3 linked regions of the Homo sapiens genome follow. The protein of the gene in region 3 interacts with the protein of the main gene of each other region in a pairwise test. Each region holds a gene or a part of one and is shown on either strand. Other genes may lie near its edges.

Region 1 (7,441 bases), on a different chromosome or scaffold from region 3:
ACAGTGAAACCCCGTCTCTACTAAAAATACAAAAAATTAGCCAGGCATGGTGGCGGGCACCTGTAGTCCCAGCTACTCGGGAGGCTGAGGCAGGAGAATGGCGTGAACCTGGGAGGCGGAGCTTGCAGTGAGCCGAGATCATGCCACTGCACTCCAGCCTGGGTGACAGCAAGACTGTCTCAAACGAAAAAAAAAAAACCAAAAAAATAGTAGTAGTGTTATAAAAATGCTTTGTCCTCACAGACCCCGTTGAGGGGATACTAGGATTACCACCTCCCACAGCCAGGGTACCACACTTTGAGAACTGCTTCATTAGGGTGACGTCTCCCTACCCCACCAAATAGCCAAGCCCTCCGGGGTTACAAACCCCTAGCAGAGGGGTCCGTGTGGTCTGGCACAAGTGAGAAAGCCACAAGCCAGGTAGGTTAGGGTGGCACAGGAGGGGAGGCCTAATATAACCTGCCAGGAGGTAGCTAAGCCTTACCTCTTTATTGCTACCCATCCCAAAGCCACACTCCCTCCCTCAGTGTTTTAGGCTTAGTGAGGGTACATTTTGTGGAGCACTTTGGTCTTTTTGGAAGTTTCCAAGATGTTTCAGTACAGCCAGCCTTGATCGTTCTTAGGCACATGAGGGAGGGGCTCACACACAACAAGACTCAGAAGGGACATCTTCCTGTGGTGGGTTCATAGCTGGATACAGGTCCCCAACTCCCTGGCCCACATCAGGGGACCAAAGGCCTAAAAAGGAGTCTAAATTAAGGAGGCAGGAGTTTCCCATGATTTCTGAGGGGTTCTTGTGCACTTCTGAGCCAATAAGCTAGAAGTAGCTGAACCTCACTGGATTTTACGGGTGGGGAAACTGAGGTAGGGAGAAGTCTCATGGCTTGCCCAGAGCCACACGCTGAAGGTTGACCCCAGGTCCTTTTGCCTGCACTCCACTTCTCATACAAAAACACGCAGGTGGCCGGGCACAGTGACTCACGCCTGTAATCTCAGCACTTTGGGAGGCCAAGGTGGGCGGATCACCTGAGGTCAGGAGTTCGAGACCAGCCTGGCCAACATGGTGAAACCCCATCTCTACTAAACATACAAAAAAAAAATTAGCCAGGCATGGTGGTGGGCGCCTGTAATCCCAGCTACTCGGGGGGCTGAGGCAGGATAATTGCTTGAACCCGGGAGGCAGAGGTTGCAGTGAGCTGAGATCGCGCCACTGCACTCCAGCCTGGGTGAGACTCCATCTCAAACAACAACAACAACAAACATTCAGGCTGGCATGGTGGCTCGCGCCTGTAACTGCAGCATGTGGGGAGGCAGAGGCAAGAGGATTGCTTGAAGTCAGGTGTTCAAGACTGGCCTGGGCAATATAGCGAGAACCTGTCCTTACAGGGGCAGTGGGGTGGGGCAGCAGGAAACAACACCCACCACCACCAAACATTCAGAAAACAGAGGAATAGAGATACTACAGTCAGACAGCCAAGTCCCTCCATGTGTAGCCCAGAGGAAGTGCCCCTTCCTGGATGCTCTCACCTTGCACTTTGTTGCTGGCCCGCTGGCGAAGCCCTGGTGCCCGTGAGGGGCTCTGGTCCTTGGTGTCATGGGTCAGCAGCTCCTGCAACTCCTCAAAGAGCTAAAAGACAAAAGACACACATGCCTATCTCAGTGAGAGATGCTACCAGGTCCCAGCTGAAGGTAGGACCTTAAGTTGTGTTAGGAAATACTTTGGAAATAACAAGATGGTAAGAAAAATATTGGCCGGACACGGTGGTGCGCCCCTGTAATCCCAGCACTTTGGGAGGCCAAGATGGGCACATCACGGGTCAGAAGTTTGAGACCAGCCTAGCCAACATAGTGAAACCCCATCTCTAGTAAAGATACAAAAAATTAGCCGGGCGTGGTGGTGCATGCCTGTAATCCCAGCTACTCGGGAGGCTGAGGCAGGAGAAATGCTTGAACCTGGGAAGCTGAGGTTGCAGTGAGCCAAGATCGCCCCATTGCACTCCAGCCCGGGTGACAGGGCGAGACTCTGCAAGAAAGAAAGAAAAGAAAGAAAGAAAGAAAGATAGAAAGAAAGAAAGAAAGAAAGAAAGAAAGAAAGGAAGGAAGGAAGGAAGGAAGGAAGGAAGGAAGGAAGGAAGGAAGGAAGGAAGGAGAAGAAAGAAAGAAAGAAAGAAGAAAGAAAGAAAGAAAGAAAGAAGAAAGAAGAGAGAGAGAGAGAGGAGAGAGAGAGAGAGAGAGAGAGAAAAGAAAGAAAAAGAAAGAAAGAAAGAAAGAAAGAGAGAAAGAAAGAAAGAAAGAAAGAAAATTCATATCCCTTTCATCCACCTTAAGAGATAAGATGTTCCAAGCCCAATTGGCTCCCCTGCCTGCTCTTGCCCTCCCAACCGATAACAATGATCCTGGATTTAGAGTTCACTGTGGCCGCCCATGTCCTTAGCCTGTGTCTCCATGCAAAAGGCTGCGTTGCTTGTTTTGAAATAATATTAAGTGGTATCCTAGTACATGCACTCTTCTGCCGCTGCTTTCTTCTCTTGAGTTTAGATTTGTGAAATTCAGCCTTGGTGAGGTGTGCTGAATGGTATTTGTTAGCCTTGCAGATGAGGAAACTGTAGCTCCTACAGGTTAAGTGCTTTGCCCAAGGACTGATCCAGAGGTCAGGCACTAAGAGCCGTTTTTTTTTGTTTGTTTTTTGTTTTTAATACGGAGTCTCACTCTGTCTCCCAGGCTGGAGTGCAGTGGCGCGATCTCTGCTCACTGCAAGCTCCGCCTCCCGGGTTCACGCCATTCTCCTGCCTCAGCCTCCTGAGTAGCTGGGACTACAGGTGCCCACCACCATGCCCAGCTAATTTTTTTTGTATTTTCTTTTTTTTAGTAGAGATGGGGTTTCACCGTGTTAGTCAGGATGGTCTCGATCTCCTGACTTCGTGATCCACCCGCCTCGGCCTCCCAAAGTGCTGGAATTACAGGCGTGACCCACCACGCCCGGCCAGCCAAGAGCCGTTTTTTTTTGTTTTTGTTTTTGTTTTTTTGGTTTTTGAGACAGAGTCTTGCTCTGTTGCCGTTGCCCAGGCTGGAGTGCAGTAGCATAATCATGGCTTACTGCAGCCTTGACCTCCTGGGCTCAAGCAATCCTCCCACCTCAGCCTCCCAAGTAGCTGGGACTACAGGTGCACGCTACTATGTCTGGCTAATTTTTTCATGTTTTTGTAGAGATGGGGTCTCACTGTGTTGCCAGGGCTGGTCTCAAACTCCTGGGCTCAAGCCATTTTCCTGCTTTGGCCTCCCAAAGTGTTGGTATTATAGGCACGAGCCTGAGAGCCAGTTCTGATTCCAAATCCCTTTTCTTTTAAAAACATTTTTTTCCTTTAAATTTTTTTTTATTTTTTATTTTTGATAGAGACAGGGTCTCACCATGTTGCTCAGGCTGGTCTGAAACTCCTGAGCTCAAGCAATCCGCCCACCTCGGCTTCCCAAAGTGCTGGGATTACAGGCGCGAGCCACTGCACCTGGCCCTTTTCTTTTGCCTACACTTCTCTGAAAGACACAGATTTTCTTCCTCCAAGACGGACTGGATTTTCTGAAGGGGGAGGGTGGAAGGGAAAGGCCTTGTTCCGTAACAGGGGCCAGGACCAGAATCTTCTGCAATCCACGGCTGGGAGTAGGGAGCCAGGAGGGCATGACCCCGAGCCCCAGGCCCCATGGCACCTCCAGGGGGTGGCAGAGAGAGAAGGCTCTATGACATCTGGTTAGAAGGAGCCCCTCACCCCTCCACCTCTGCCCAAGAATTCATCCTTCCAGGCTTTGCGCAAACCCCACCTTCCCCCTGGATTTGAGACACTTGTAGAAAGAGGTAAACCTCTCTGGCTAGGCTGAGAGTCCCTGGAAGGCAGAGGCCACCTGTAACCCTGGGAGTGCCAACCTGGCTATACACTAGTGCACACACAACTTATACATTGCCACAGACTGTTGTCACAGAGAGCTACAACTGATTCTCATGTCCCATTATGACAGTAGTGAATGTTTGAGGGCTTCCTCTGTGCCAGACACTGCTGTGGGGACTTTACTGCTGTAAATTCACTCAAGCCTTATAAGTCTAAGATATAGGTACCATTATTATCCCTATTTTACAGATAGGGAAACTGAGGTACAGAGAGATGAAGGCATTTGCCCAAGATCACCCAGCTAGTAAGTGGCAGTGCTGGAACTCTGGTTCCCTGTGTTAACCATGACCTATAGCACCCTCCCCTACAATGAGAAGGGTCCCTTGGAGGAACAACGGGGGGAGGCAGAGGCTGCCCCAGGCTGCCCGACCCTCACCTGGATGTTGAGCAGGAACGCAGTCTTGGCCTCTTCTATCACCCTCTGCCTGACTGCGGGAGTCATCTCCAGGGAGTTCATGCGGGAGCGGTAGAGCTGCTTGAACTTGGTGGCACTGGCAATGTTGGGGAAGGTGAAGAAGGCCAGGCCCTCGCCAGAGCTGGGCAGGTCCAGGGCTTTCTGGGCAATCTTTTTGAGCACCTGGCCCCCAGACAGGTCACCCAGGTAGCGGGTGTAGGCGTGGGCCACCAGCAGCTCGGGCTCTGTGCGCCCCACCTCGTGGAGCCGCTTCACATAGCGCTGCATGGCTGGTGTGTAGGGGATGACCTCCTGCCAGCGGGGCCCGTACCAGAAGGCCAGGTCCTGCTCCAGGGCAGCCTTGCGGTGCAGCTCTTCTGGGAAGTAGACAGGGGCGAAGACTGGGCTCTCCTTGTTGCGCTCAATCTCCTCCTCCAGGGCCACATAGATGTGGTACAGGGAGGCCATCACCAGCTGAAAGCAGAGTGAGCAGGTCAGGCCGCCAGCCACATAGAAGACCCCCACCTCTGTCCGTCCCGTCCACTACTGCCTTTGGAAAGGCCCTCCTCACTTCGCAGCTGGGCTCTGACTCCTTCTGCCACCCCTCGCTACAATCCTCTTCACACAGCAGCCAGAGGGGTTTTTACAAGAGGAAAAGACGATCATGCACTTTCTCAGCCTAAAAACCTTTTACCCCACTGGGCAAAACAAGCAGCCTAATTGAATCCTTATATAAAGATCTAACAAACTGGCCCAGTGTGGTGGCTCAAACCCCTGTAATCCCTGCACTTTGGGAGGCTAAGGCTGGAGGATTGCTTAAAGCCAGGAGTCTGAGACCAGCCTGGGCAACATAGCCCAAAACCCACCTCTACAAAAAATTATTTTAAAAAACTAGCTGGCTGGGGCCAGGTGCGGTGGCTCACGCCTGTAATCCCAGCACTTTGGGAGGCCGAGGCGGGAGGATCACAAGGTCAGGACATCAAGACCATCCTGGCTAACAAGGTGAAACCCCGTCTCTATTAAAAATACAAAAAAATTAGCCGGGCGTGGTGGCGGGCGCCTGTAGTTCCAGCTACTCAGGAGGCTGAGGCAGGAGAATGGCGTGAACCCGGGAGGTGGAGCTTGCAGTGAGCTGAGATCTCGCCACTGCACTCCAGCCTGGGCAACACAGCGAAATTCTGTCTCAAAAAAATAAATAAAAATAAATAAATAAATAAATAAACTAGCCAGCTGGACGCGGTGGCTCACGCCTGTAATCCCAGCACTTTGGGAGGCTGAGGCAGGCGGATCACGAGATCAGGAGTTCGAGACCAGCCTGGCCAAGAGACCAGCCTGGGCAATATGGTGAAACCCTATCTCTACTAAAAACACAAAAATTGGCCAGGCATGGTGGCAGGCACCTATAATCCCAGCTACTCGGGAGGCTGAGTCAGGAGAATTGCTTGAACCCAGGAGGCAGTGGTTGCAGTGAGCCGAGATCACGCCATTGCGCTCCAGCCTGGGCGACAGAGCAAGACTTTGACTCAGAAAAAAAAAAAAAAAAAAAAAAGCCAGGTATGGCTGTGGGGGTGCATGCCTATAGTCCCAGCTACTCCAGAGGCGGAGGCAGGGGTATCACTTGAGCCCAGGATTTCAAGGTTGCAGTGAGCTGTGATCATATCACTGTACTCCAGCTTGGGGAACAGAGTGAGCAAGACCCTGTCTCAGAAAAAAAAAAAAAAAAAATCCAACAAAGGAATTGCTATTCCCATTTTACAGAAAAGGAAACTAAGGCTCAGAGAGGGTATGAGACATGGAGGTTGCACAGCTAGTAAGAAATGAAACTAGATTGAAGACCGGGCATTGCCAGGGACCCACCATGGCTCAGGAGAGGGGAACAGCTGAAATGAAAGTGCTTAAAGGAGATTGGCCATGTGCTTCTGGCTTTTGACCTCTGCGTAACCAACTACAGGGCACAATTCTCCTTCCTGGAGGCCTATTCTGAACCCCACCACCTCTGCATGCTGGGCTGAGGCAACAGGTCTTGAGTGTACCTTGGCTTGGGGCACTAACTCCCGTTACACATTAATACGCCCGTTTAAATTTGAAGGAGAACAAAGTTAAGACATTTAGGTTGGAGTTTCTGAGTTATTTCTGAGCCACAAACATTCAAAGCAGCTCTATTCCTTGAGGGGACAGAAAGCCAGGCAGTCTGGTACAAAAGAGCCTGGGTTTTTGAGTGTGACGGACCTGGTTCTTACCCAACTCTGCCAGTCCTTAACTGTGTGACCATGGGTGAGCCACTTGCTTTCTCTGGTCCCAGCTTCCTATCCTATCCTAGAGCAGATGATCTGAGGTCCGTGTGACTGTGCTAGCCAACTGTGCTAGTCAGTTCCCTCACCTGCCACATACTAGATGGGGCTGGTGTGAGGATTAAGTGAGAGGATCTGGGCCAGCACAGAGGGCAGCCTGGCACTTAGCGCTCACATGAGAAGGGCTGTGATAAGTGCCACGTCCACCAGCTTAATGTAAGTGAGCACTGGATTCTCTCATGGATCTTGGCGCCTCCTTAGAACCCTGTGACTTAGAGGCAAAATCCAAAGTCTAAGCTGGCTGGGGATGGGATATTCCAGCATTCACCTCCCTGCACCCACTGTCTCCAGTCACACTGCAGCAACTGGGTGTACCTCATCTTTTTAAGGGAGAGGGGAGGAGGATGAGGAAGACCCATTACAGGCCCAAGGACCCCACCCAGCCTGGAACCACAGATTAAATCTCTCCTCATTAAAGCATGTCTCGGCCGGGTGGTGGCTCACACCTCTAATCCCAGCACTTTGGGAGACCAAGACGGGTGGATCATCTGAGGTCAGGAGTTCGAGACCAGCCTGGCCAACATGGTAAAACCCTGTCTCTACTAAAAAAATACAAAAATTGGCCAGGTGTGGTGGTGGGCACCTGTAGTCCCAGCTACTTGGGAGGCTGAGGCAGGAGAATCGCTTGAACTTAGGATGCGGAGGTTTCAGGGCACCGAGATCTTGCCATTGCACTCCAGCCCGGACAACAGAGTGAGACTCTGTCTCAGATAAAATAAAATAAATAAAGCATGTCTCATGTTGGAAGTAGGGGGTGG
Region 2 (8,348 bases), on a different chromosome or scaffold from region 3:
TTCTTTTGGAGCACATTTTAAGCCATATTTTTATCTTATAGCTAGCAAATCCAAAGAATAAATACAATTGTTATGAAATCTTAGCTTGGAAGGGTGGGATGATTATCACACTCAGAAAGCTGACTTAGAAGTTGATATTGAAAGCACATCCCATCTATGGAGCCCTGGTATCCCCTTTATCTACAGGCAGTGGGGGGTAAGTGGTTCTTGGAAGAGTCAACTGCCTTTAATTCATCATTCTCACTGTTATCATTATGAGATAAACCAGATGATTTTGAAGAGTGCTAACTTTGTGTCTAGATCAGCAGAGAGTCCTGCAGACTGGGACCCAGGCATTTGATTCTGCTCCAGCAAGATCTAGGCTTGTGGACCTCAAATCTGTATTTTTAAGGAGCACCCTAGACGATTCCTATGGCATCCAGCATTGGTAGGCACTGGTCCAGAAAAGTTACCTGGATTTGTAGTAAGGAAGACTGAGGCCTCTAGAGGGAAAGAGGCTGGTCTAAGGTCACACAGTGAGCTGGGATACCAGCTGGGACCCCACCTGGGATTAGGACACACAGCTCTGAGCCAGTGCCTCTCCACTGCACGACCCAAGGATGTTCTCCTGCAAGTCAAAAGGAATTGGAGAGATTGAACAAATATGTAACATGGTCTCTGTCCTCAGGAGCTTATATTCCAGACACAGGACGAGGTACCCATGTCAGAGACAAGAAGACGCAAAGTCCCACCAGTCTGCATGGGTGTCCCCAGCTAGGAGCCAGTTAATAGAGAAGGTAAAAGGGCAGAAGGAACACGCATTAGGATCCATTTGTCTGCTGAGTGCCTTGCACACATCATTTGCTTTAATCCTCACAACCAACCCATTGGGTTAGTTACTGTTCATATCTCTATTTCACTGATGAGGAAGTTGAGGCACAGAGAGGCAAAGCAACTACAGGAAAGTCGCCAAGCTAGCAGGTGGCAGAGCCAGGGTAAAGTGTGTCCGACCTCAGAGCTGAGTCGAGAGCTGTCTCCAAGGGAGGCCTGACCCCACTACTTGGGTAGAGTTTGCATCTGCAGATCAATTCTTTACATGTCATGTTTGACAGCTAAGATCCATTCCCAAATGACTCTGCGGTCCATTCGTTTGGTAGTTTCTTTCAGGGGGCTGAGGTACTCAGAATCTGAAGGGTTTCTATCCAAGTCTGTGGAGGGACTAGAACTTCCAGGATCACAGATTTGCCTCAGTCTCCTAGTTTCTTCCCTCAGTCCATTTATGGCAGAAGAAGGAACCTGCCTGGGTGCTGTAGATTTGTCCTGGGGTCTGAGATCTCCAGGAAGAAAACTCTCCCTTCCCCCAGCTCAGGCAGTGAGGTCTTCCTGTACCATCCCTGACCCGTGGTCCATCTCCCTGTACTGATGGGAGTTTTAGGGATCAATTCTCTGTTGCTCAATTGGATTGTATAATTCTCCTGGTCACACCTGAATGTTAGGCCTATCTGTGCCTCTCAGCCCGTCCCAAGTCTTTCTCTTCATAATTCTCAATTCCTTTCTTTTTCCCTTATCAAGGTAACATGCCACTTTATTCCCTCTTGGCAAATTTTACCTTGTTGCCCTATCTTATTTGGTCTATATTTGAGCAAGATATTTAGAAACATCCTTCAAAAAACCAGTTGCGCAACAATATTTGCTGAAATCTAAGTTTATTATGACCTTGCAGAAGGAAAATAACAGAAATGAAAGCACAAAATATGGCAAAAAACAGGATCTGTGAACTGTACCCCTACCATACCACACCTAGTTCAACATGTTCTCATTTTCTTCTTCAGGTTGGGGGAGAACAGCTGTGACTATAAATGCCTCGGAAATGCATAGACCCCAGGTTTGGCTATACGTCCTAGGGAACCTCGTCTACCCTCTTGAATCTCAATTTCCCCAGGAAAAACACGAAGCTGAATTAGATGACTTCTACCATCTTAGCTTTACAATCTCATCTTTATGACAGTCTGGAATATCAACAGAATCCGATGCCAGCCTGCAGGGATGAGGGTGTTAGAAGCTTAACCGTCTCGCACAAGTCATCTTACCACATGGTCAGGGTAGAGGGACTATAACTAAGTCATGTGGCTTGAGATCTGCCCAAGCAGATGCGTTGTCCCCTTCTGCCAATGACCAAGCACAGGGATCCTTCAACCTTTCCTCTAAGTCCAGAAGATAAGACAGCAACGCTCTGGTCCCAGCACCGCCACAAGCCTCTTTTCCTCTAGGGGCCTCAGTTTTCATAGCTATAAATTGGGGCTCACATCAGTTTTCTGTCCTGCTTCACAAGACTCTCATAAGGCTCCAAGGAGACTGCCCCAGGCGGGAGCTTGAGGACCCCCCTTAGGGTCGTGAGCAGTGAAAGCCCAAATGCTGTGTCTGGCACTGCTCATCATAGTCCTCTATCCAGCCCTCCCACCCTGCCTATTCTTTCTCCTGCCTCCAGGACACCACGTCTCCCCTTTCTAGTAAGTAGCGTTGATCTCATTAGCAGTTACAACAGTTCTCTGCATCTCAGAGCATGGACTTTAAAACCAGATAGGTGTGGCTTGAGTCTTGCCTCTATCACATGTAGTCCCTAGGGCTTCGGACCATTTCACTTCCCTGAGCTGATTTTGCAGCTGAGTCAAGGGGATAACAATGCTGACCTCACAACATAGTAGGGAGCGCTAAATGGGACAGTGCCTGTGAGACACCGAATTCAAACCCTAGCACATAATAGGCACATACTCATTTGAGGGCTTCTGCTCCCATCCTTCTCTCCGGAACTCATGGTCAGGAAAACTCAGCGGTCTATATGGCGCTCACTCAACCAGTAAAGTTGCCATAGGGTTCCATTGCTATCTTATACACCTCCCACATTCTGCCCCAATTCCATCGTCAAGCCTCAGCTCAGCCCACCAAGGGCACTAGCATCATGACCATTCACACAAGAGCAAGGCTTACCTTCTTGAAATAGTCAGCAAGGCTGTCGGGGTCCCAGCCCAGGACCTCTGAGCGAAAGGGCACATTCCTCAGTGCCATGGCTGCTCTCCCGGGAAGAAGCTCACAAGCTGAGCATGGGCGCTTCACCCATGGGCAGAGAAGCTCAAATCCAGAGCTCGGAGGCGTTCTTGGCTCTTCCAACTCCCAGCTACCCTGTGGAACACCCCTGTTGGAGCCGATGTCTTTTCTGGCGTAGCCAGATCCCAGAAAGCAACGGCTTCCTCTGCGAACAAATATGGTCTCTTCTCAGAAAACGACTCAGCTAGTTTCCTTTACCACTTCCTCTGCTGGGCTCTAAATAAGTAAACAAGGAAGCCCAGCTCTGGAGGCTTGAGATGCAGAGAGAGCCACAGGGTTGGTAATTCCCCACTGGCTCCAGTCACCCCAACCCAGTAGGAGAGGCAATGAAGGGGTCTTAAACTCCAATGTGAGTCTGAGTAATTTTCCTTTAAACTCTGGGCACCCATATGTCTACACTGCATTCTTGCTCAGCTGGGGCTTTGCAGACCAAAATCTATCCTGACGGTTGACCTGAAATACAGACAATTTCCCACATCAGTGAACTGCTGGAGCATGTTTTTTTAATGCTTTCCAACCACTTTCCCCTCCCACCATCAAAGACTGGGATTCTTTCAGCTGCCTCTTTACAGTTGTCATGAGAGGGTCCTCAAGGAGTGAGTGAGTCAGGCACCCAGGGCTGAACAAGGTGCTACACTGTGCAGACAGGGCTCAGTTTCTGATATGACTATTTCTGTGCTATGCAACCTTAGGCAAGGAGTTAAAAGCTGGGAATCTCAGTTTCCAAATCTGTATAATAGGAAAACAGTGATTCTTCATATGCACATAAAACTTAGATGCATTCAACTAGACAAACCTAAAAAGAAAAATTAAAAAGAAAAAAAACTTAACAATTGCTATTGGTAGTGTCATATATTCCATTCACTATTGTTTCCACAATATATTTTATTCACTATTGATTCTGCCATATATTCTAGCCAAAGAGCACATTCCCTGGAGATAGGAGGTGAGAATTTGCTGTTTTCTTAGTTTCAGACATTGTTCATTTCTCATAACTGAACAACTTATTGGCAGAGGGTGAGTCCAGTGTATAAAAGCAACTATATTTGTGCAATAAGGCAACCTCTAAACACAAGTTACTACTTCATCTAATGCCACACACACACACACACACACACACACACACACACGAGTCATCTGTTCCAAGGCTGTTGCCTTTACTAAGTGATGCTATGTTGGTCCTTGAGGTGGTGCCTTCCTGAGGGTTTTCAAGCATAGCTTTGGCCATGCACAGTTTTCTTCTTATACACACTCTGAGGAGCCCCGCCGTCACGGTAATGCACCTGCCTCACAAGCTGGTGGGCAGCTTAAATGAAATACACATTTTGCTCCAGGCCCAGCACTAGCTCATCAATGTGAGCTGGTGTTAGCCTCACCTTAGAAGGTGCTGAGGGCATCAGTGAAGGTAGCCCAGGCCATTTGCTCCTTGCAGGGCCTCACACCTAAGAACTCTTTTCTTTTCTCTCTTTCTTTCTTTCTTTCTTTTTTTTTTTTTTTTTTTATTGAGACGGAGTTTCGCTCTTGTTGCCCGGGCTGGAGTGCAATGGTGCCATCTCGGCTCACTGCAACCTCCGCTGCCTCCCAGGTTCAAGCGATTCTCTTTCCTCAGCCTCCCGAGTAGCTGGGATTACAGGCATGCACCACCACGCCCAGCTAATTTTGTATTTTTAGTAAAGACGGGGTTTATCCCTGTTGGCCAGGCTGGCCTGGAACTCCCAACCTCAGGTGATCTGCCCGCCTAGGCCTTCCAAAGTGTTGGGATTACAGGCGTGAGCCATTGTGCCTGGGCCGCACCTAAGAGCTCTTTGTAGCTGATCATTCTGTATAAAGCACAGCTCTGCTGTACAAAAGCTCCATCACGGGTGAGAGGTCACCTGGTCTTTCAAATCACTAGCATAGCAGTGAACAATAAAAAGCCATTTGAAGAGAAAGAGAGAGAGAAATCACTTTGAAGTAGAGTAAGCACAGAAGATGTCATGGAATTAACTGGGATTTAAGCAGGGCCGTGGAGGATGGAGTAAAAGGGAGGGCATTCCTGACGTGGATCAATCAATCTCTCTCTCGCTATCTCTCAAAACACATGCCACCTATGAAAAGGAACATTCCAGATCATCCTTAAAAGTAGAAGCAATTTTACTTTATTTTATTTTAATTTCTCCTTTTTATTTGCTTTTGTTTTATGTTTAGAGATGGGGCCTCCCTCTATTGCCCAGCCTGGAACGCAGTGGCACAATTATAGCTTACTATAGCCTCGAACTCCTGGGATCAAGTGATCCTCTCACCTCAGCCTCCCAAGTGGCTGGGAGTACAGGCATGCACCACCATGCTCGGCTAATTTTTTTATTTTTACTCTTTTGTGGAGATGGAGTCTTGCTTTGTTTTCCAGGCTGTTCTTGAACTCTTGGTCTCAAGCGACCCTCCCATCTTGGCATTACAAAGCGCTGGGATTATAGGTGTAAGCCACCAAGACTGGCCTAATTTTCTTAATGATGTTCACCCCACTCAGGATAAGAAAAATCTACAAAAAAGCAGTTGTAATGAAGGTATCACTAAATATTAGGCTCCTTTAGAAAGAATTATCCAATTAATGTGGCCAAGATGGAGGATCCATGGAGCTCATTTAGAAGACAGACAAAGCAGCTAAGAAACCTGGATGACAATAATGGTGACTTTGAGAAACATAAAGAGACACGATGCCTTGAGCTCTTCCTATGGTCCAGAGAGCACAAGCTAAGAACTTCTTACTGACTGTCTTAATTGTTGGCACTATTGTTGCTCCTACTCTACAGAAGAGAAAATTGAGGCTCCAAGAGGTGAACTACTTGCCCCCTGAACCCAGCAAGTAGGGAGTGAATCCAGGACTCTTCCAAAGTTGATCTGAGTCCAGAGCCCCTGTCCTTGGCCATTTGCCACCTTGAGGCTCTGAGATGTTACAGAAACTGCCTAAGGTAGACTTGGGATTCAAACCCAGTCTGTCTCCAGAGCCTGCGCAGTTTCTTCTCTGTGGCCTCTGGTGAGGAGAAAGAGAGGTTGTCAATCTGAACAAGCTCAGTAAAGGATGCAGCACTCTGCATGAGGCGGGCACTTGGTGCCCCCTCCCCACAGAACCACAGGCCCATTCCTCAGAAAGGGCAGCTGGTGCAAGGGGAAGCATGTTGCTTCAGGCCTGGAGGCTTTCCTCTTCCCCAGGCCTTGCTGATTTCCCAACACTCACGAGTTTCACATCTCCTGTCTCTGGCTGGCGGGTTCCTGAAGCTCCAGAGACCGGGCTAGTTAGCCCCCAAGAGAGACTCAGGAGACCAGAAGGACCACTGTGACCCTGTGCAGGCTCAGCCGCAGGCCCCTCACCTCCAAAATGGGGCGGCCATGAAAGCAGCCTCTGGGTACAGCCCCCGACAGCGTGGCTGCCATGACCATGGAGGCCAGGGGCAGCAGCTGGGTGTACAGCATCTGTCTGTTGGCTTCAAGCATGAAGCAGAGCAGAGGGTGGGGATCCAGTAGGGCATAGTGATTTGAAGCAGTGGTGGGGATACCCTCGCCCATGTCTGTCTCCCTCCCCCAACCAGGTGGAGAACTCCGCAGGTACGAACGAGGAACGAGGTTACAGAGGCCTTCTTAGGCTTTGTGATGCATAGCTCAAGATTTGGGAAAAGGTAAACAACCTCTGAGCAGAATAAAAACAACATTCTAGGGGCTGGGCACAGTGGGTCATGCCTGTGAGTCACGTTGTGGGTCAATCCCAACACTTTGGGAGGCCAAGGTGAGTGGATAATCTGAGGTCAGGAGTTCGAGACTGGTCTGACCCATATGGTGAAACCTTGCCTTTACGAGAAATACAAAAATTAGCCAGGCGTGGTGGCATGAGTGCCTATAGTCCCAGCTACTGGGAAGGCTGAGACAGAATTGCTTGAACCTGGGAGGCGGAGGTTGCAGCGAGCCGAGATGGCACCACTGCACTCCAGCCTGGGTGACACAGCAAGACTCCCTCTCAAAAAAAAGAAAAAAAAAGACAACATTCTGCTCCTACACAGAAACAGGGCTCATGGAATAGGAATGATTTTTCTTTGTTTTTGTTTTTGGAGATGGAGTCTCACTCTGTCACCCAGGCTGGAGTGCAGTGGTGCCCTCTCTACTCAGTGCAACCTCCCCCTCCCAGGTCCAAGCAATTCTCCTGCCTCAGCCTCCCGAGTAGCTGGGACTACAGGCACATGCCGCCACGCCCAGCTAATTTTTTGTATTTTTAGTAGAGATGGAGTTTCACCTTGTTGCCCAGGCTGGTCTCAAACTCCTGAGCTCAGGCAATCCGCCTGCCTCGACCTCCCAAAGTGCTAGGATTACAGGTGTGAGCAACCACGTCCGGCCAAGGGATAGGAACCTTTACTGCACAACCAGTGGAGCCTGTGGACAAGAAAGCAGTACCTGCAGGGAGGCTGTGTCAGATTGTGAGAGTGGATGTGGGAGCAGCAAACTGCAGCCCAGGGCATCGCCTGAATCTCCTCCCCACCCCACCCATCACGTCCAGACTCCCAGCTCCCTCCCTTTCCATCTGACCCACAGCAGAATCATGTGGGCAGATAACTGCCTTCCTTCACCGCTAATTCTAGAGGCGAGAGAAATGCACAATTCCTTAGAAGAGACTTGGGAGTTGCAACTTCTGTGTGTGGGGCTGGGGGAAGGGTCTGGGGAGTTGATGCTTAGGGACGGGGAGAATGGAAAGCAGGGACTTTACAGACGAGAATGTGTTGACCTTCTTAGGAGAGGAACACAAGAAGTTAGAAGGTGGGTGGGAGGAAGTGCTTATTTGAATTTGACTTGGACAGAGGGTCCTGACCATGGGAGAGAGAATAAGGTGGTGGCACGTGGCCCAGAGAGGATGCTGACGTGACACAGACACCACAGGCAATCTGAGGATGCCCTTGCCCGTGTCCACCCAGCCTCACTCCCACCAACTTTTTAACATCTCAGATTTATCACCAGAGGCTGAAGTCCCTTGCTGTTGGAACTTCCTAGAGGGCCTGCATGGGAGCAAAGGCTGCAGCTGTCATCCTCACAGAGAGAGGGGGCAATTTTCCCCTCCATCCTTAAGGCAGGCAGTGGGAGCACCCTCCATGCCTGGGATCCTTGTGGATGGCAAAGGGCTCCACCACATGAGAGAGTCCAGTGGAGCGAGCGGAACCAGGAAGGGGTCCTGACTGCTCTGCTGGACAGAGGGGCCCACCCACTCCAGCAGCCACACTAGAAGGCACAGAACTCGGCAAGCCGGC
Region 3 (8,243 bases):
GCTTTAATTTGAACCTCCCGGGTTCAAGCAATTCTCCTGCCTCAACCTCCCGAGTAGCTGGGATTACAGGCACCCGCCACCACGCTCGGCTAATTTTTTTGTATTTTTAGTAGAGATGGGGTTTCACCATATTGGCCTGGCTGGTCTCGAACTCCTGTCGTCAGGTAATCCACCCACCTCAGCCTCCCAAAGTGCTGGGATTACAGGCAGGAGCCACCACACCCGGCTAATAAAATTAAATTTTAAAAAGTGTTTAAAGTCTTTTTGGCTGTACAGTTTTTGGGGAGGGAGGAGAGATAAAATTGGGCACCCTGGGATATTGGGAGAAATGCACAAAATCTGGCATTTAAAAAAAAACATGAAAGTAAGACAATTAGGGTCAGGAAGAGTTGCAAGGGAGGGGTAACAGCCAGCAGGGTTCTTTGACTGCAATAAGCAATCTAAGAACATAACATCAACAGAGAGCAGAAGCCAGGAAGGGAAAAATCCCAAGATGTGACTCTGCCACGGTATGCAAGTTCTAGCCTGTTAACCTTCGGGTATTAACGAGTAGTGCTGGCAATAAAATGGGCACCAATCACCATTTCAACTCACTGGACATTTTCTCAAGAATGTGCCTTATGCAAAGCACTCTGCTAGGTGCTTTGCAGAATCAAGAGTGGGATGACAAGAACCGTAACCTGAAGAGCTGATGGTCTGTAAGTTAATAACCATGTATATAACAGTAAAGGATATTGCCAGAAGAAAGGTACAGATAAAGAACTAGGAGGAAACAGTGGTCAGAACCTAACAGGAGTAGATACGTTGGCACATTTTTGTCATTTTCAGTCCCACGAGGGCTGAGACCTGTCTGGCTCAGTACTGAGTGAATGGAGAGAAGAGGCGGGAAATGGTACCTGAAGCAGGCCTAGGAAGTGGCCTCAGAGAAAAAGCAACAAGTAAATAAGAGGCAGTATCGACTGCAGTGGGCTAGGAATGGCGGGCGTACAGTGAATGGGGTCAGCCAGCAAAGCGAGGGAAAGCGGACTCCGGAAGAGCAGGTTAAACCAGGACGCAGCAAGTCAGAGATTCGGCACAGAAGCAAATGCTGACCACACTGACCACACAGGCTAATGCGGGAGGACTGTGGGCCCGAACAGGCCGGCTGGAGGATATGACAAACATGTGCGGAGAAGACCCGGGCCCGGGGCTAGCCAGCAGCGCGGTTCCGGCGCCCGCCGGCTCCGGCCACCGCCCCCTCCCCGCCTCCAGCACCACCCCCTAAGCGGGAGGAGGAAGTGCATCCAGAGAAGGACCCCGGGCGGTGGGGCTCGAGGGGCCTCGGCTGCCCCGAAACGCCGAGGTCTATCTGCGGTCTCGACCCTTAGTGTCCAACCTCCTTCCGGACCCACCCCTGCACCCCCTGGCCTCAGCGGCCCGGGAGGGCACCAGCCCTGTGCCTGTGTGGCTGCTGCACTTCCAGTCCTTCCGAGCGGCCCGCGTCCCCGCCTCTTAGGCTCCGGCTCGGGCCAGACGCGGCCCTTGGGCCCCTAGCCCACCGCCGCCACCAGCCACGCCGCAGCTCACCCCAAGCAGGCCTGCCCCGCCGGTGCGCGCGGCCCAGGAGGCGGGCTCCGCCCGGCAGCCGCCGCAAATGGCCATTGGGGCCCGGACCAGCCCGCGGGAAGCTGGGAGTGGGCGCGCTCCGGCCGGGCGGGAGGAGAAGGAAGCGGCGGCCGGGCCTCCCGACACTGGCCGGCGACTCCAGGGGGCTGGAGGACAGGAAGTTGAAACCCCCTTTTCGCAGCTGCGGCCCCGTGGCACCAGCTCCTACTGCACCAACCCGCCCAGGCCACAGGCGCGCCGGCGTTTCTGGTTTCCAGTTGAAGAGGGCAGGCGGGAGGGCGCGGGGCACGCGCGCTCGCGCACGCGGCGGGCGGAATCCCCCGGCTCCCGGGAGACCCTGCGGCCCGACCCTCCCCGGTCAAGCCATCCCCCGGGCTGCCGGCCCCTTGCCTAGCTCCGGGGTGCGTTGGGCTTGAACTTTACAGATCGCCAGACCCGAAGTTAAGGGGAGGAGAGGAATGCCTCTGCCACAACCCTGTCTACAAGAAGCGAGATGAGCACACCCTCCTCTGTTAAATATTGCAAGGTGACACTGGATCGCCTCCCACACAGGGATTTTCAAAAGGTCTGGCGGGGGGACTACAGTAAACAAGAAAGGTGTTTTCCCTGATTATTAGTTTCCTAGGGAAGAGCCCCTAAGGACTCTGCAGACGGAGGGGCTTTTAATCTGTGTGCCTGAACTCCAATCAGCAGCTACGCACAGAATTAGAAGTGTGTCCAAAAGGCGTTTCCGTAAAACAGAAACTTAATAATGGCGTGGCTCCACTCGCTCGGGTTCATTCATTTATTACTGTTTTCATTGTCCCCTCCTCCCTCCCACCCGGTCTCTCTATGAAACCGGAAAGGGAACCGCGTGGGGAAAGGGGTACTAAAAAGGGGGCATCCGCCTGAGGAGCGGCAGACAGAGGAGGACGGTGAAGTAGGAGCGCTGCAAGGAGAAAGGAAGGACACGAGGGATGGAGAGACAGCGAGGACCAGGGCCAAGGGCGGCGGGCGGGAGAGGGTTAAAGGCAACAGGAGACAAGGTCCTCCCTCCACTGCCTTTCACACTCCGGTTGCGGGAGAGGCCAAGCGAGAAAACCCAAATCTAGATGAAAACCGGGGGAGGGGAGGGGAGCACAGGTAGGCGATCTGGACTGTGGCATCTCTCCCGCCTTCCCTGTCGCGCAGACATCACCCTGTGCACACACATATGTTCTGTGTTATATAATCTATATAAAAGATGCCTATGTAGCCGCGGTTCACACAGGGGCACCCACAGACCTCGCGCTTCATGTACCCCCCCCCCCCCAGCGTCTCCTGCACCCGGGAGACCCGAGAACTCAGCGATCAGCTGGCTGCCCGCGATTCATCGCTCCATTCACGCCCAGGCAGGGAATACCGACATTAAGGCACTCCGGGAAGACGCGCAGGGCTCCCGGGAACAGTATCAGGCGAAAGCATCACGTACCAGTTTTCCTGCATCCATTGGATGGCTTCATTCTCGTTGAACTGCTTTTCGAATTCATATTCTTGTAAAGTCAACACTGACATGTTCATTGGGGCTGATCTTCGGAGTCGCTACGTGTTCTCTATACAAAATAAAATAATCTGTAAAGCGCTTGATTTCGAGTGTTCTCCTGTCTGCTTCCCCCACCCACCCCCCTAGGTCTTCCCCACGCCGCTCGGTCTCCAGCGGTCGTCTCTTCTCCCAGCCTCTCAGCTACATCCAGGGCTGAGCATTGCCTGCGCCTCCGCTCCCAGCTCCTCTCTCTGGGGCTCTCCTCCTCCCGGCGTCCGCATCCACCGTAGGAGGAAATGAATGCCTTGCGGTCTTAGTGCCCGCACGTTTGTCCATCACCCTTTTTACTCGTCTACAGGGAAATCTCCTCCCCCTCGTGCGATTTGAGAAATTAACCCTTGGCGAGGGAGTGTGCGAAAGAGCGCGACCTCTCTCCGCCCGGGGGGGACAGTTTTGTTTACAGCGAAGGTGGTTGGAAGAGTGGGGGAAGGGCGCAGAGAGAAAGGAAGTGGCCTGGAGGTCATCCAGATCCCCTAAGCCCAACCTCGTGGGCCGCCTTGCTTTGAATGAAGTTTCAGCTTGCAGGGCGCATCCCCGCGGCGCGTGGACCCGAGAGCTTGGCGAGTAAACGATTGGGAAATAGTAAAACCTGCCAGCTCTCTTGCAAGAGAACTCCGGGCAAATCTACGTTGAGATCACCAGTGAAGGGAATACGCTTCCCACCTCCTCGCCCTACCTCTGGGACCACCCCCACCCCTACCCCCACCCCCACCCGGGAGCTCTGGCTTAGATTCACGCTAACCCAGGCCCTGCGGACGGCAGAGCTCCTTAATCTCGTACAGACAGGGGATGCTGAGTGTGAGGATAGTGGATAGGCGAGAGAGGCTAGTAGCCGGAAGTGGAAGAAAGGGCTGGGTTAGGTGGAGGGTTTAGGTACCGGGAAGGGGGGGATTAATGAACAGAGGCAGAGTGGGGAAGGAAGCTGACAGGAGAACTGGACCGACTGGCCAAATGCAAAAACTTTATTTGCATGCATGAGAAATTTGGCTTTACTTGCTGTACTTGTAGGTAGAACAGAATATGTGAGGAGAGGGCTGAATGTACTGTTGACCCCTACTGGGCCCTCAGCCTCCAAGAGGAAAAACTATTTTCTATTCCATCCATCCCTCCACTCATTTCCCCCAAGAGTTTGGAAAAATGAAATATGAGACATGGAAGTATCTAATGATGTAATTGTAAACTTTACAAAATAATAAGGAGCCCTGCTTTTAAAAATTAGGTGGATATTAGGACCAGAAAGAAAATTCCCCTTCTGAGAACATCCCCCCACCTCCCCAGTAGTCCAAAAAGGGTACTTTCATTCAATTTAGATGCCTCTAACCCACAAAAAGTGGGAACTGGGAGAAAAATTTTTAAAGGAGGAAGGGACCGGCCGCGGTGGTGGCTCACAGAAGTAATCCCAGCACTTTGGGAGGCCGAGGTGGGCGGATCACCTGAGGTCAGGAGTTCAAAACAGCCTGGCCAACATGGTGAAACTCCGTCTCTACTAAAAATATAAAAATCAGGCAGGCGTGGTGGCGGGCACCTGTAACCTCAGCTACTCAGGAGGCTGAGGCAGGAGAATCGCTTGAACCCGTGAGGTAGAGGTTGCAGTGAGCCAAAATTCTGCCACTGCACTCCAGCCTGGGCGACAGAGGGAGACTCTGTCTCCAAACAAACAAACAAAAAAAAAAAAGAGGAAGGTCTAATGAGAAAGTAAAGAAATAATTTTTAAAATCCAGTACAATATATAGATTAAAGGGCTAGCCTAGTTGATTAGCAAATTAATGTATACATTGACACTGCCAAAGATTCTGTGTAGGGACTGTCCTCATCTCCCCCATTAAGGGTTGTCTTTCTTTTTTCTTTTTCTTTTTTTTTTTGAGATGGAGGAGTCTCGCCCTGTTGCCCAGGCTGGAGTGCAGTGGTGCAAACTCGGCTCACTGCAACCTCCGCCTCCCAGGTTCAAATGGTTCTCTTGCCTCAGCCTCCCCAGTAGCTGGGATTATAGGCAAGCACCACCACGCCCGCCTAATTTTTGTGTTTTTAGTAGAGATGGGGTTTCACCATGTTGGCCAGGCTGGCTGTGATCCACCTGTCTCAGCCTCCCAAAGTTCTGGGATTACAGGCATGAGCCACCATGCCCAGCCAAGGGTTGTCTTTCTAGAGACCTCTACAGTACAAGTCTACGTCACTTTGAAGTAAGGCCCAGGCCAAAACTCTTGGCAAGATTGGGCTGGAAGATAGGTGTGGCCAGATAAGAAAGAACCATTTTAGCACGGTGCCTGAGCCTGTGAATAATCAATAAATATTTGTAAAGTGAATGATTCATCAAATAAATTAAGGTAAGAAGTGAGAAAGGAATCAAGACAGAAAATCCACTTTGGGTGGCTGAGGCAAGACAATTGCTAGAGACCAGACTGGGCAACATAGTGAGGCTCCATCTCTACAAAAAATTAAAAATTAGCCAGGTGTGGTGGTACATGCCTGTAATCCCAGTTACTCTGGAGGCTGAGATGGGAGGATAGCTTGAGCCTGGGAGGTCAAGGCTGCAGTGAGCCATGATCACACCACTGCAGTCCGGCTTGGGTGACAGAGTGAGACCTTATCTCAAAAACAAACAAGCACTGTCAGTGACTTTGAAAACTGGTGACTCTGTATGGAAAGCAATTTGGCAGCCTATATGATAATTTCATTTATTTTTTAGAGATGGGGACTTGTTATGTTTTCCACGCTAGGACTATAGGCACCCAGCATATATCACAATTTTAAATCCACACCATTAATTCACCAGAATTATTTTTTTTTTTGAGATGATGTCTCCCTCTGTTGCCCAGGCTGGAGTGCAGTGGCGCGATCTCGGCTCACTGCAACCTTTGCCTCCTGGGATCAAGTGAGTCTCCTGTCTCAGCCTTCCAAGTAGCTGGGATTACAGGAATGTGCCACCATGCCCAGCTAATTTTTGTATTTTTAGTACAGACAGGGTTTCACCATGTTGGCCAGGACGGTCTTGAACCCCTGACATCAGGTGATCTGCCTGCCTCAGTCTCCCAAAGTGCTAGGATTATAGGCGTGAGCCATCGCACTTGGCCTACCAGATATATTTTGAGTACATACTCATCTGAGCTCTTGGGACTCACAAATGAGACAAACAGGGCTCTTGCGCACTTGGAGCTTACATTCCAGAAGGGAAGACAAAATAATTTCTTAGAGAATGAAATGCTAGGATTACAATTTAACAGCATGACATGAAGGCCTGGGAGTGCTCATTTAAACCTGGAAGGCCTCAGGGAGAAGGACTTTGAGTTGAGACCCCGCTGGCAAAGAGCCAGCCACCTCTTGCAGAAGTGTTACAAAGAAGAATGAGCAAGTACAAAGGCTCCTAGGAAAAGAATAAATTTGCGGGATTGAGGACAAAAGGCTGGTGTGGCTTCAGGCCATCAGTAAGGAGTAATTGAAAGAAACAGGTTGAAGAGACAGGCAGGGGTCAGATCTTGGCCACAGGTAAATCAAGATAAGGTGTTTAGATTTTATTCTCAACTGCAGTGGAGTGGAGGAGGATAAAAGAATGTTAAACCGAATAATAGCATGATAATTCCTAGTAAATTCACTGCTATGGATATACTCACCGAAACATTCCGGATATATGTCTAAGATATTCAGCATTGGGCTGGCATTATGCTTGTAATCCCAGCACTTTGGGAGGGCGAGGTGGGCTGATTGCTGGAGCCCAGGAGTTCAAGCCCAGCCTGGGCAAGATGGTGAAAACCTGTGTCTACAAAAAAAAAAAATACAAAAACATTAGCTGAGCATGGTGGCATGTGTCTATATTCCCAGCTACTCAGCAGGCTGAAGTGGGAAGATCACCTGAGCCTGGGGAGGTCAAGGCTGGAGTGAGCCATGATTGCGCCACTGCACTCCAGCCCGAATGACAGAGTGAGACCTTGTCTCAAAAAATGACAACACCAACAAAGAAAACCCCCACAAATATATTCAGCACTGTTTATAATAAAACACTGAAAATAATAGTTTAAGGGATAATTGGAAGGACAGCCAAGAAAGGAATGAGGTCAATAGACTCAAGTCAATGTGATTCATTGTCAGTCCTGGTGGGCTACCTCTTGACAAAAGCAGAGGAGGCAGCCCCGCTTACAGGCTATATAGCAAGGTTTTATAGGGCATATAACTGGGTCAGGGTGAAGGAAAAAGAAAAGGCCAGGGAGTAGGGGATCCTTTGTGCCAGGTGTCTGACCGCTTCCTGGAGTTGTTTTTCTTGCCAGTTCTGTTGTGTAAGGTAGACTTCTTGACCGCATCCTGGAACAGCTGGCCTCGGGTCCGACAGTTACAGGTGGGGCTTTGGGGCTTAGGTCTATGGGAGCGGGAAACAGTCCAGTTGGGTGGACCCTAACATTCCAGCCTTTTAACAGATGATAGAGAAGGGGCATTGATTTCATCAGACTGCTTCAGGCTGAGAGTGGGCAGGGGCTAGGGGAAAGGCTGGAAAGTGGAGGTTGGCTTTGGTTTTGAAAGTGTTGATACTCCTGGAGTAACATCATGACCTGTATGGTTCCATGGGCAAAGGCATGGATACGATTCTGCAAAAACTGGGTGAAGAGGAGTATTAGGCAAGGACCTAAGATTAGGAGGAGAAAAAGGATTACAGCAGGTCCAAGGAGAGAGGGTAGCCAGGCGGCCCAGGTGCTGAGAGATCAAGAGGGCCACGTAGAGGAGCTGCTTTCCCTGATCTTTTGGGCTCGATCTTTGAGATTTTGTTTGTTTGTTTGTTTGTTTTTTACTGCATCCTGAACTAAGCCTGACTGGTTAAAATAAAAGCAGCATTCTTCATCTAGGAAAATGCAGAATCCTCCTTTGTCGGTGGTAAGTAGGTTGAGACCTCTCTGATTTTGTAAGGCGACTGCCGCTAGGGAGTCCAGCTGAGCTTGTAAGGGGATATGGAAGTTGCAAGGTTGTCTATACCATCTGAAAGGTCTTTTGATAAGGTTTTATGGTAATAAGAGGAGGTTGCGATTCCTGCTACCCCTGTACCTGCGGCCACTGTGATGCCTAGGTCTACAAATAGTGGGATAAGTTGTATGGC

The links.
Region 1: the proteins of ELOVL6 (region 3) and HMOX1 interact in binary tests that used the Homo sapiens proteins (3 or more experiments, as listed by UniProt).
Region 2: the proteins of ELOVL6 (region 3) and LCP2 interact in binary tests that used the Homo sapiens proteins (3 or more experiments, as listed by UniProt).

What each region holds. Positions count from the first base shown.
Region 1 is NC_000022.11:35,384,050-35,391,490, reverse strand, and holds part of HMOX1 (heme oxygenase 1), read right to left. Parts: intron 4,807-7,441; coding exon 4,315-4,806; intron 1,628-4,314; coding exon 1,528-1,627; intron 1-1,527.
Region 2 is NC_000005.10:170,294,567-170,302,914, forward strand, and holds the start of LCP2 (lymphocyte cytosolic protein 2), read right to left. Parts: upstream 3,212-8,348; 5' UTR 3,046-3,211; coding exon 2,968-3,045; intron 1-2,967. UniProt on the Homo sapiens protein: Adapter protein primarily involved in signaling pathways within T-cells, as well as other immune cells such as platelets, mast cells, and natural killer (NK) cells.
Region 3 is NC_000004.12:110,195,192-110,203,434, forward strand, and holds the start of ELOVL6 (very long chain fatty acid elongase 6), read right to left. Parts: upstream 3,425-8,243; 5' UTR 3,145-3,424; coding exon 3,056-3,144; intron 1-3,055. UniProt on the Homo sapiens protein: Catalyzes the first and rate-limiting reaction of the four reactions that constitute the long-chain fatty acids elongation cycle.